3 linked regions of the Homo sapiens genome follow. The protein of the gene in region 2 interacts with the protein of the main gene of each other region in a biochemical or structural test. Each region holds a gene or a part of one and is shown on either strand. Other genes may lie near its edges.

The links.
Region 1: the proteins of S100A2 (region 2) and AREG interact in far-western blotting, tested with the Homo sapiens proteins (one study listed by IntAct).
Region 3: the proteins of S100A2 (region 2) and EPO form a complex in vitro, tested with the Homo sapiens proteins (one study listed by BioGRID).

The regions. Positions count from the first base shown.
Region 1 is NC_000004.12:74,442,873-74,446,695, forward strand, and holds the start of AREG (amphiregulin preproprotein), read left to right. Parts: upstream 1-2,263; 5' UTR 2,264-2,473; coding exon 2,474-2,534; intron 2,535-3,661; coding exon 3,662-3,823.
Region 2 is NC_000001.11:153,564,340-153,568,162, reverse strand, and holds the start of S100A2 (protein S100-A2), read left to right. Parts: upstream 1-2,318; 5' UTR 2,319-2,657; intron 2,658-3,823. UniProt on the Homo sapiens protein: May function as calcium sensor and modulator, contributing to cellular calcium signaling. May function by interacting with other proteins, such as TPR-containing proteins, and indirectly play a role in many physiological processes.
Region 3 is NC_000007.14:100,718,370-100,721,969, reverse strand, and holds the start of EPO (erythropoietin precursor), read right to left. Parts: upstream 1,503-3,600; 5' UTR 990-1,502; coding exon 977-989; intron 413-976; coding exon 267-412; intron 9-266; coding exon 1-8. UniProt on the Homo sapiens protein: Hormone involved in the regulation of erythrocyte proliferation and differentiation and the maintenance of a physiological level of circulating erythrocyte mass.

The sequences.
Region 1 (3,823 bases), on a different chromosome or scaffold from region 2:
AACAGTCCACTTTCCCAAAAGTGAAACATTTCTGATGACTGATCTGCACAATGTGTTTTCATCTCAATAAGAAGAGTAAGAAAATGGAAAGTATTGCATATGTTAAATAGCTTGATTTAACCTCATTGTATACATATATCAAAACATCATGTCATATACTACAAATATGAAGTTACTTGTCAATCAAAAAAAAAAAGAAGAAAAGAGAAGAACAGGCCTAGAACAGAAATGAAGCCTATGGGAGCATAAAGGTGCAACAGTGTAGACCAACTGCGTGAGCTCCAAACAAAGTCTCCAAAAGAATCTTTTGAAATCTTTGGGCAAGTCTCTCAATCTCTCTGAATCACAATTGCCTCATCCACCAGAACAGATAACAGTGCAGGCCCCTACTTCACTTTGGAATGGGCATGACACTTTTCTAGCCTTATTTCCCATACTTGGTCATACCCTCACATCAGGTCTTTATTCCATGTAAAAGATTTGCTGGGAAGGCCTTTGAGGGGCCTCTTCATCTTTCCACAGAGCTTTCCATTAAACAGAGGCAAAATTAAACCATGTCCTTTTTTTCCATGGCACTCTGAACCCTTCTCATCATGTGATCTATTAGAATTACTTATCTATGTATCTGGCCCACACCACTGAGCTCCTGGTGAACCTATACTGCTCCCCTTCATAAAATATAAAGCAGGTGGCTCACACAAAATACACTCTCAACAAATGTGGAATAGAAGGCATGATTCATGATTATTTCATTCTACTAAATGCATGATATTATTTGGACTACGCACTGTGATATACCATTAAAAATAAGTGATTTTTAAAAAAAAATTTCCAGAATTAGGACAGATGCACTGTGACTCACGTTATTATTATTATTATTATTATTATTATTATTATTATTATTATTTTGAGTCGGAGTCTTGCTCTATCACCCATGATGGAGTACAGTGGCATGACCTTGGCTCACTGCAACGTCTGCCTCCCGGGTTCAAGGGAGTCTCCTGCCTCAGCCCACCCGAGTAGCTGGGACTACAGGCGCGCGCCATCACGCCCAGCTAATTTCCTTTGTATTTTTAGTAAAGATGGGGTTTTGCCATCTTGGCCAGGCTGCTCTCGAACTCCTGACCTCAGGTGATCCACCCGCCTCGGCTTCCCAAAGTGCTGGGATTACAGGCATGAGCCACTGCGCCTGGCCTGACCTACATTCTTAAAAGGGCTGTGTTACTGAAACAATCAGGAAAGAATCATATCTCCAGGTGAAGGAAAATGAACAATGCTTTTTCTCTTCCTCAAGTCAAGAAAAATCCAGTTCTTTAGTTGACAGTACATCCAAGTTAGTCAAATTAAGTAGCTTCCTGTCTCCGCTTCATTTTATCTACTTGTCATGATTAAATATCCTACTAGGTTGTAAGTGGGCCCTCAACGCTGACCTTTTTATCTTGGGATTTGAGAGGCACAGTCTAGAGCACTACTCTTCACCTAAATGCCAGTATGCCACCAGTAGAAATTATCCTTTAGGCTAAATATTGTTCTTCCCAGAAACCCTCTTTTCAAGGATCAGTTTAAACCTAAATTCATCAGAGAGGAAAACAGCAGATTTCAGAGTCAGATGAAGAATTCATATCCACCTGGCTTTGAACATTATCGGCTGTGAGATGGTGTAGGTAAAATTTTAAGTGCATAATTTGGCAATAATAAATCATCAATAAATATTAATGTTGATGAGGCCCCTGGGCCACATAAAGAAATAGGGAGTGAGGGGATTTGAAATTCTGGCCACTTCACAGAAATGGGTGGGAAGGGGCTCTTGATTGAGATAGAAGCCCATCCTACATGAAGCAATTCCTCATTGAGTTCTCTCGTCCTTTATCCTTGTTGGAAACATCAGGCAAAGTCACTCTTGGTCTTAAAGTACTTTTACATCTAAATACGGAACTCTTCTATTTAATCCCTGTCTGTTGTAGATGTTAAGTATACAAAGAGGTTGTCAGAGTTTGAAACATCTGGACTTCTGTCAGGTACTAGCTCCGGAACTCCAGTCCTGCTCGCCCTCAAAAACGGCTTGCAGCTAGAGGTTTAAGTTCCACTTCCTCTCAGCGAATCCTTACGCACGAGGGAGGCGGGGCGTGTGTCCTCCGCGCGTGGTTTTCGGGTAGCACCTTCTGGGGCGCCGCCTGCCTCCACCCACGGCCGGGCCTTGACGTCATGGGCTGCGGCCCCCTCCCGGCTGAGCCTATAAAGCGGCAGGTGCGCGCCGCCCTACAGACGTTCGCACACCTGGGTGCCAGCGCCCCAGAGGTCCCGGGACAGCCCGAGGCGCCGCGCCCGCCGCCCCGAGCTCCCCAAGCCTTCGAGAGCGGCGCACACTCCCGGTCTCCACTCGCTCTTCCAACACCCGCTCGTTTTGGCGGCAGCTCGTGTCCCAGAGACCGAGTTGCCCCAGAGACCGAGACGCCGCCGCTGCGAAGGACCAATGAGAGCCCCGCTGCTACCGCCGGCGCCGGTGGTGCTGTCGCTCTTGATACTCGGCTCAGGTGAGGATTCACCGGCGCTGAACTGCTGGGCTCTCCTCCCATGGCAGGTTTTGCCTCTTGAGTTTGGCTCTTGCTTCTCTAAAAATCGCCCTTTAGTTCCCCCGACCCTGCGCCGCAGGAGGTGATCACTGTAGCTCCCTCCCTAGGAGGAAAAGAGAAGGGCAGATGTCTCAAACGTCCAGGACAAGGTGTCCCAGAGAATCGCTGTACTTTTTCTTTAGTTCAGCTGAGAAGACGGGAGAGATCATTTGAACCTAACCCTTCGTTTCACAGATTAAAAGATTAAAAAGACCAAGATCTAGAGAGGTGAAGTGATTTCCGCAGATATTGGACCCAGCAGTGTTTGCTGCCTCCTGCCTAATTCTCCATCTCTGTCTAGTGATTTCTTCTTTACCTTCCTAGAGGGACTTAGAGTATCCCGGCGAGAGGTTAAAAGCACCACTCTGATGCTGTTTTATTGAGACCTAAGAAAAAGCAAGATAAAGCAGTGGCTTAACTCTGGGCCCCAAATCTTACTTAGTACTCAGTTTATTGTCTATGTAGTAATAATAATAATGATAATGAAAAATGACAATAATAATCGATATAATTAACCACTGTTTATATTATTTTAAAAGATTATCTTTTAAAAATATCTTTTAAAAATATGAACACATCTTTTAAAAATATGAACACATCTTTTAAAAATATCTTTTAAAAATATGAACACATCTGAAGAAAATCTGATATTTGTATCTAAAACCTACCGAAATAGGCCAGGATGGCATTCTAGCAAAAAAAGAAATGCATTTGGAATGTGAAGTGATGGGAATTTTTAGACATTACCCATCAAGTAATTGTATTAGATTAATTTGCCAATTTGGCGGGATTTTTTTGATGTGGAAATTAATGTGGATTATCTGTGGAAAAGAAAAACTTCAGAAAAGCACTTCTGTAATTGGGACAGCTGAATTTGCTTGCTGGCAAAAATGTAAAGTTTCTTTCATAGAAATGACTCAATCACAAACAATAGCACATGTGCAATAACTGCTTTGATGTCAAAAGATAAACTTTTCTACCTAACACAGCTGACTCGAAAGGCACCCTACTTTACCTTTTCTTTTCTTCCTTTATTCCCTCCCCTGCAGGCCATTATGCTGCTGGATTGGACCTCAATGACACCTACTCTGGGAAGCGTGAACCATTTTCTGGGGACCACAGTGCTGATGGATTTGAGGTTACCTCAAGAAGTGAGATGTCTTCAGGGAGTGAGATTTCCCCTGTGAGTGAAATGCCTTCTAGTAGTGAAC
Region 2 (3,823 bases):
CCTGGGAGCCGCAGTTTCCTGCTGTCACTCCTCAGGGATTTGTAGCTCTCTGAAGCTCTTTTCCGACCCGTTGTCTCGGTTCCACTCTTGGGATCCAGAGGAGAGGTGATTATTTCGTAGCATAGTCAGTGGTGTGATTTCACGGGGTGAGAAGGACTCCCTTGCTCCTAAGCACTCCTCCAGTGACCCCTGTTGCCATGTGGTAGCCGTAAGCACTGGTTGGCACCTGGTGTGGGCGAGACCCTTACCTCATGCAGAAATGAGTAAGACCGGTGAGCTCACCATGTGGGGGTGAGGCTGAGAGAAAACAAGTACACAGGTGATTCAGTCAAAATCAGAATTCTCTAAGTACACACGAAAAGGGCAAAAGGGGCGCTTTGTACAGGACAGAACAGGTAGACACTGAATCCGGTTGGGCCCTGGGAAGGCTCCCTGCAGTGGCCTTTGAAGGGGGGGTTGGATTTCAGCAGGATAGAGGGCATGGGCATGTGTGGGCACGTTCTGAACAGAGGGGTCAGCGCAAGCCGAGGGTCTTGGCCACACTAGTTGCATGTGCCGGTGTGTTTAAGGGACACGCAGCAGCAGGCCGAGTCTGGAGCGCCTCACTGCCAGGCTTTTTAAAAATTTTTAATTTTAATTTAATTTTATTTTATTTTTACTTTAAGTTCTGGCATACATGTGCAGAATGTGGTTTGTTACATAGGTATACATGTGCCATGGTGGTTTGCTGCACCTATCAACCCATCATCTAGGTTTTAAGCCCCGCATGCATCAGGTATTAGTCCTAATGCTCTCCCTCCCCTTGCCCCCATCCTTCTCCCCGCAACTGCCCACAGGCCCTGGTATGTGGTGTTCCCTTCCCTGTGTCCATATGTTCTCATTGTTCAACTCCCACTTATGAGTGAGAACATACCGCCTGGCTTTAAGGGACAGCCATGGGGATGCACTGCAGTTTCTGAGCAGGGAAGGCCCTGTGGAGGCCCTTAGTTAAAAGGAAAGAATGGCTGTGAAAATCGATGCATTGCGCTCCCTTGTCCCTCACCCTCAGTGTGAAGGGTTTTTATTCCGAGTTCTACTTGAAGTAGGCCTCGATGGGAAGACAAGTAGCATGAGGGGTTCAAGTACTGAGGGGAGCAAGGGACACTCGGTGGCTGTGCCAAGGTGTAGAAGAGGACACTGGGGGCCCCAAGGCCTGACTTCATGTACACTGCTCAGGCTGGCCCCCAAGTCACACGGTGACCGCTAGGAAGGGACCAGCCTGTTCTCAGTCTGATCCTCCTGCCATGTCATTATCCAAAGCTCCTCCTGGCAGGGCCTGTTTGGGGTCTCTGTGCCAGTGCTTTCCCTGCCAGGCTGGGCTGGGGCTTCCACCTACTGCTCTGGGACTGCTGCTGCCCTGGCCCTGGGGGAGGAGGGTGTGCCGCTGAGTCACTGCCTGGGCATCTGGGCCTGGAACCTCGGGTGAGTCACTTAGGGCTGAGGTAGAGGGGCTGGGGGAGGGGAAGAAGCTACTCGACAGCTGGAGCAGGGAGGGGAGCTGGGGCCACAGGAAGGGCGGTGCCCTGATGCCCAGACGGGCCGGGATAGACAAAGGGCCAAGGAGGAAGGGGCCCTGGGAGGGGGCAGCCCTCCCTTGGGCTGGGCTCTGAATGGCCACAGTGTTTGCCTTTCTCCGGGTCTGGGGAGGACATGTGTGTGGGGGGCAGTGAGAGAGGGCTGTGGCTGAGGGCTGTGCTTCAGGCCTGGATTCTGGCTTGGGAAGCTGTCCAGCTGGTGTTTTCAGCCTTGGGTAGGGATGTACCCCTACCCACCCACCCAGCCCTCAAGCTGGAGAAGAGGAGGCCAAAGTTTTCCTGTTCAGCCTTTAACTACTCGGGACTTCCTTATGCTCCCCACAGACTGTGGCCCAGCCCAACTGCGGCTGTGTGTAGAGCAACCCCATTTCTCACTGCTTCCCCATCCTTCCAGACACCTTCCTACACAGAGGGACCTTCCCAGGTATTTCTAAGCACACTTAGTTACCTCATTACCTCATTAAGAGGTATTCTGGTGCTGGCCATTAAAAGTCACTCCACTTCATCCATGCCCTGAAGTCAGTCCTGTCCTTCTCCTCCTGATGTCCCCCAGCTGCCTCCTCTGGCCCCCAGCTTCCTAAGGGTGGCCCCAGGTTGCTTCTCTCTCACACACACGGGCGCATGTATGTACACGAGCACTGGACCATGAAGTCTCAGCGTGTGCTCACAGCCTCTCACACAGGAGTGGGCTGTGACTCACAGGCATGTCATGAGAATGAGGCCTGGCACCAGTCTCCAGGCCCCAGAGCAGGGGTTGCCTCCCCTCACCCCGGTCCAGGATGCCCAGTCCCCACGACACCTCCCACTTCCCACTGTGGCCTGGGTGGGCTCAGGGGCTGCCCTTGACCTGGCCTAGAGCCCTCCCCCAGCTGGTGGTGGAGCTGGCACTCTCTGGGAGGGAGGGGGCTGGGAGGGAATGAGTGGGAATGGCAAGAGGCCAGGGTTTGGTGGGATCAGGTTGAGGCAGGTTTGGTTTCCTTAAAATGCCAAGTTGGGGGCCAGTGGGGCCCACATATAAATCCTCACCCTGGGAGCCTGGCTGCCTTGCTCTCCTTCCTGGGTCTGTCTCTGCCACCTGGTCTGGTGAGTACCTCTGTCCTGCTGAGGGCAGGGTGGGGAGGATCCCCGTGGGTCTCTGTCTTTGTCTCCACAGTTCTCTCATTCCAGCTTCCCTGGTGGGATCAACCTGGGCCTCTCTGGGCCTTCCCCCTTGGAAGAACTCTCTGTGAAGTGCTGAAGTGTTGACTGAAGGGTTTTTTTTTTTTTTTTTTTTTTTTGAGATGGAGTCTCGCTCTGTCGCCCAGGCTGGAGTACAGTGGTGTGATCTCAGCTCACTGCAAACTCCCCCTCCCAGGTTCACGCCATTCTCCTGCCTCAGCCTCCCGAGTAGCTGGGACTGCAGGCGCCCACCACCATGCCCGGCTAATTTTTTTGTATTTTTAGTAGAGATGGGGTTTCACCATGTTAGCCAGGATGGTCTCGATCTCCTGATCTCGTGATCCACCCATCTCGGCCTCCCAAAGTGCTGGGATTACAGGAGTAAGCCACCGCGCCCGGCCGACTGAAGGGTTTTTCTCCAGGTTCCTCTGTGAGGTCTCAGTGCAGGGGTTGCTCTGAGGCCCTCCCCTGGATATCTCAGTCTAGGGGCCCTTCTTTGGGGGTCTAGGCCTAGGAGCAGGAGGTGTGCATGTGGGCGTTGCTGCAAAAAGAATCCTGAGATTTTTTTTTTTTTTTGCAAAGTCCTGGATTCTAGCAGGACTAAGGTGCAAGAGGCAGGGGTCTCAAGACTCTGCCTGGGTCATGGCCCCAAGCAGCAAAGCTCTGCCCCCTGCCTCGGTGAAGGCAGGGCTGGCATGATGGGCCCAGGGCATGCCCTGCCTCTGGCATAGCTCCTCTGGCCTCACCCTGAAACCTGCCTAACCTTTCCAGGCTGGTCTGAGTATTCTCAGAGGCCTTGCCGCTGAGGTCTGTCCCATCCTGATCCCAAGGCAATGAACATTTCATATCTTTAATTCTAATTCCAACAGGATCCTTCCTGGTGGAGAGAATGTTAAGTTGCCCCCACCCTATCCATGCCCCTGTCTGCCTAGAGGCTCAGGGGCCTTCAGGGTGAGGGGAGACACATTCCCCACCCTCTGGGAGCTCCTAGTCTGAGAGAGGAAACACTCCTGCCCAAGGGAGCTTCCAGTTAGATGGCAGAGAGAGATGCCTCTGGCTTCAGGAGTCCCGAGTCTAAGGAGGGAAACGAC
Region 3 (3,600 bases), on a different chromosome or scaffold from region 2:
CAGCCCGTCTGAAATGCACACAGCCCGGGGAGTCAAGGGTCCCTGAAGGCTCTGGCCCTGGCCCACAGGCCGTAGGATCTGCTGGCTTTGCTCCTTGCCTAGTTTCCAGGTATGGTTTGGGGCCACCAGACTTATTCTTATGTAGGGGGGCAGTGTCTAGCTTCCCAACTCCACCCCAAACCAAGTGCCAGGTTCCTGGATCTGGGAGGAGTTCCCTGAAGCCCTGAGCGTGAGTTCTGTGGAATGTGCTGGGGAAGGGGTCTCACCGTGATATTCTCGGCCTCCTTGGCCTCCAAGAGGTACCTCTCCAGGACTCGGCTGTCACAGATGAGGCGTGGTGGGGCGCCCAGGACTGGGAGGCCCAGAGGGAGCGACAGCAGGGACAGGAGAAGCCACAGCCAGGCAGGACATTCTAGAACAGATAGCCAGGCTGAGAGTCAGGCGGGGAGGGAGAAGGGTGGCTGTGGAAGGACAGCTTCCTTCATCCCCACGTCTCTGCCCCAGCTCGTCCTTCCTGTCCCCAACCATGCAAGCACTCAGGTGCTGCCTCCCTGGCCTTCATTCAATCCTGCTGCCGTGTGCACACCCCACCCCCAGCTACCAGCATCCACTTCTCCGGCCAAACTTCAATCCTGGTGTGACAGAGGCTTCCCCTCTGGCAGATAAGTGGTGGCTCCAGCGCCCAGGTTATCAGCTTATCAGCTTCCTCTCCACTGGCACAGCAGAACCCCCAAACCTTCTTCCCCTCAACCCCCAAACTGTGTCCCCTTCACAGGTCAGGTTTTTGCCATCCCCAAGGACTCCCCCAAGTCCCCGCTGGCACGTGGAGGCTGCCCCACCCCCCTCCCCCTTCCGGGGTCCTTGACAAGTCGCCGGTCCTTGAACCCAGCCACCTCCTGGCCAATAGCCGGGGCGCTAAATCCCCGCTCAAACAGGGACCCGGGCGGGCGGGAGCGCCCAGCCCGCGAGTACTCACCGTGCACCCCCATCTCCGCGCCTGGCCGGGGTCCCTCAGCGACCTGGGGCGCGCCGGGTGACCACACCGGGGGCCCTCATCCCGGGAAGCTCGGCGGTGCAGGGCCAGCCCCACGGGCCTGGAGGAGAGGGCGGCTGTCCAGGGGGCGCGGTGTCGGAGCAGAGCGGGCGCGGTGGCCCCGGTCCGGCTCCGGGAGGACAGCGCGGTGCGGCGCAGCGCAGCGAGCGGCCGGGGTGGCCCAGGGACTCTGCGGCTCTGGCCGGGGGTCGGGGCTGTTATCTGCATGTGTGCGTGCGCGGGTGGGGGTGGGGGAGAGGCTGTGTGCGTGAGGGGTCGCCAGGGGTAGGGGCCACCCGGGGTCAGAGCAGGGGCAGGACGCCTGGGTTGAGGCTCGCCGGGGCGTGAGCGGGGCTGCTGCAGACGTGCGTGTGGGTCATGGGGGCTGCTCCCGGGCCCTGGGTCGCGGGAGGGGAGTGCAGCCGGTTGCGCACCCTTGGGACTGGCGGAGCGTGCTATCTGGGAAAGGCTGGGCTCCCGGACACCTCCCCTGGGGGGCATCCCGGTCTTGGGCGGAGACTCAGAGATGCCTGGGTTGCTGAGTTCCGCAAAGTAGCTGGGTCTGGAAGCCCAGAAGCTTTAGGGAGGGGCAAATGAGTGGTCTCCCTTCCCACAATCCCAGGACATGTTCTAGAAACAATGTTGACCATGTTGAGGAATTTGATGGGGGCAAATAGGGCAAGAAATTTGGGGTTCTTCCTCCCCACCTCACTCCTCACCGTCTAGTACTCTGCAAACCCAGACACTTAACTTTTTTTTTTTTTTCTGGAGATGTAGCCTCCCTATGTTGCCCAGGCAGTGCAGTGGTGCCATCTCCCGTTCACTACAACCTCTGCCTCCTGGGTTCAAGCAATTCTCCTGCTTCAGCCTCTGGAGCAGCTGGGACTACAGGCACACCTTTACACCCGGCTATGTTTTGTATTTTTAGTAGAGATGGGGTGTTGCCATATTGCCCATACCGGTCTTGAACTCCTGACCTCAGGTGATCCACCCTCCTCGGCCTCTCAAAGTGCTGGGATTGCAGGCGTGAGCCACCGCACCCAGCCCCCACCCCAGACACTTAACTTTTAGTGCACAGAGCACACAGTCCATTGTGCAGGACACACATGCACCTTGACATCTGTTTATTTGACCTGTGGTGTAGGTTAGCTAGGCTGCATTGCTGAGTTCTTAAGAACACTGAAATACAGCTAACACCAAGAGTGATGGGGGCTGGGATTTACAGCTAAGGTTTTATGGCTTCTGGAAACCCTGAGCCAGAGGAGTGAGATTCCCAGAGCAGGAGACCAAGACTAGCTGGTCTCTCACACCTTAGAAAGTGGCCTCGTCCTTGAGCCCTCAATGTCCTCATCTGTCAAATGGGTGTGGTGAAACTACCAGCCTATCCCATTCAGGTTTCATAAAAGACAGGAAAGGTCCAGGCGCCGCAGCTGACACCTATAATCCCAGCACTTTGGGAGACCAAGGCAGGAAGATCCTTTGAGCCCAGGAGTTCGAGACCAGCCCGGACAACATGGCAAGACCTTGTCTCTAAAATAAATAAATAAATAAAAAATAATTAGTCAGGTGTGGTGGCTCACGCCTGTAGTCCCAAATATGCAGGAGGCTAAGGCAGGAGGATCACCTGAGCCCAGGAGTTCGAGGCCGTAGTGAGCCATGATCGTGCCACTGCACTGCAGCCTGGGCGACAGAGTGAGAGCCTGTCTCAAAAACAAAAAAAGACTGGAATGTGTAGATCTGAGCTGTAAGAGTTAGCCGGGAGAAATCAAGAAAGATTTGAGGGAGGAGGTGACAATGACCTCAGCCTTGAAGGGGGGTAGGACATCAATGGGAAGAGGTATGAGGTGGGTGGGGGATTGTCGATTCAGCAAAGTGAATGGAGAGTCAGGTGAGTATTGCGGGATCTGGCCAGCAGCCCGCAATGCAACAGGGCTCTCTCTTTGTTCCCAGGCGGATCAGCAGGTTGAGAAATAATAGACACACACAAGATAGTGAAAGCTGGTCCGGGGGGTCACCGCCTTCTGGTCCCGTGGTGTCAACAATGCACCAGATGTACCATCATTTATTATTAAGTTTAGTGAGGGCGGGGGTAGGTTAGTGAGGGATTTAGGGTCATTTGATTATGAGGTGAGATGGTCACATGGGGATGAATTAATTCTTTAACATAACATTTATATGTAGAAGTACAGTACATTTGTATGCAGAAGTACAGTATACAGAGATAAGAATTTACAATATAGTGTGTGCATCAGTAATTTCTAACAGAGCCTTAAAACAGAAACACAATCTTTCCATAACCTATGATTAGCAAGATACTAATCAGCAGTAACAATTGCAACAAAAGCTGGTTACAGACAATCCATGGAAACAGGACATGAAGCTAGACAACCAGTTAGACCAGAAATTCTCAGAAGGGAGTATGCCTTAACCCTAAAGAGGCCTAGAAGAGCCATGGCAAGATGAGGGCGTTTATAGCCCTATCTTATCCATATGGACAGGTGCCCCCCGCCCCCATGCGTCCGTTTATAGGCTCTCCACAAGGGTCGCATTCCATTCCCAGAGCTATG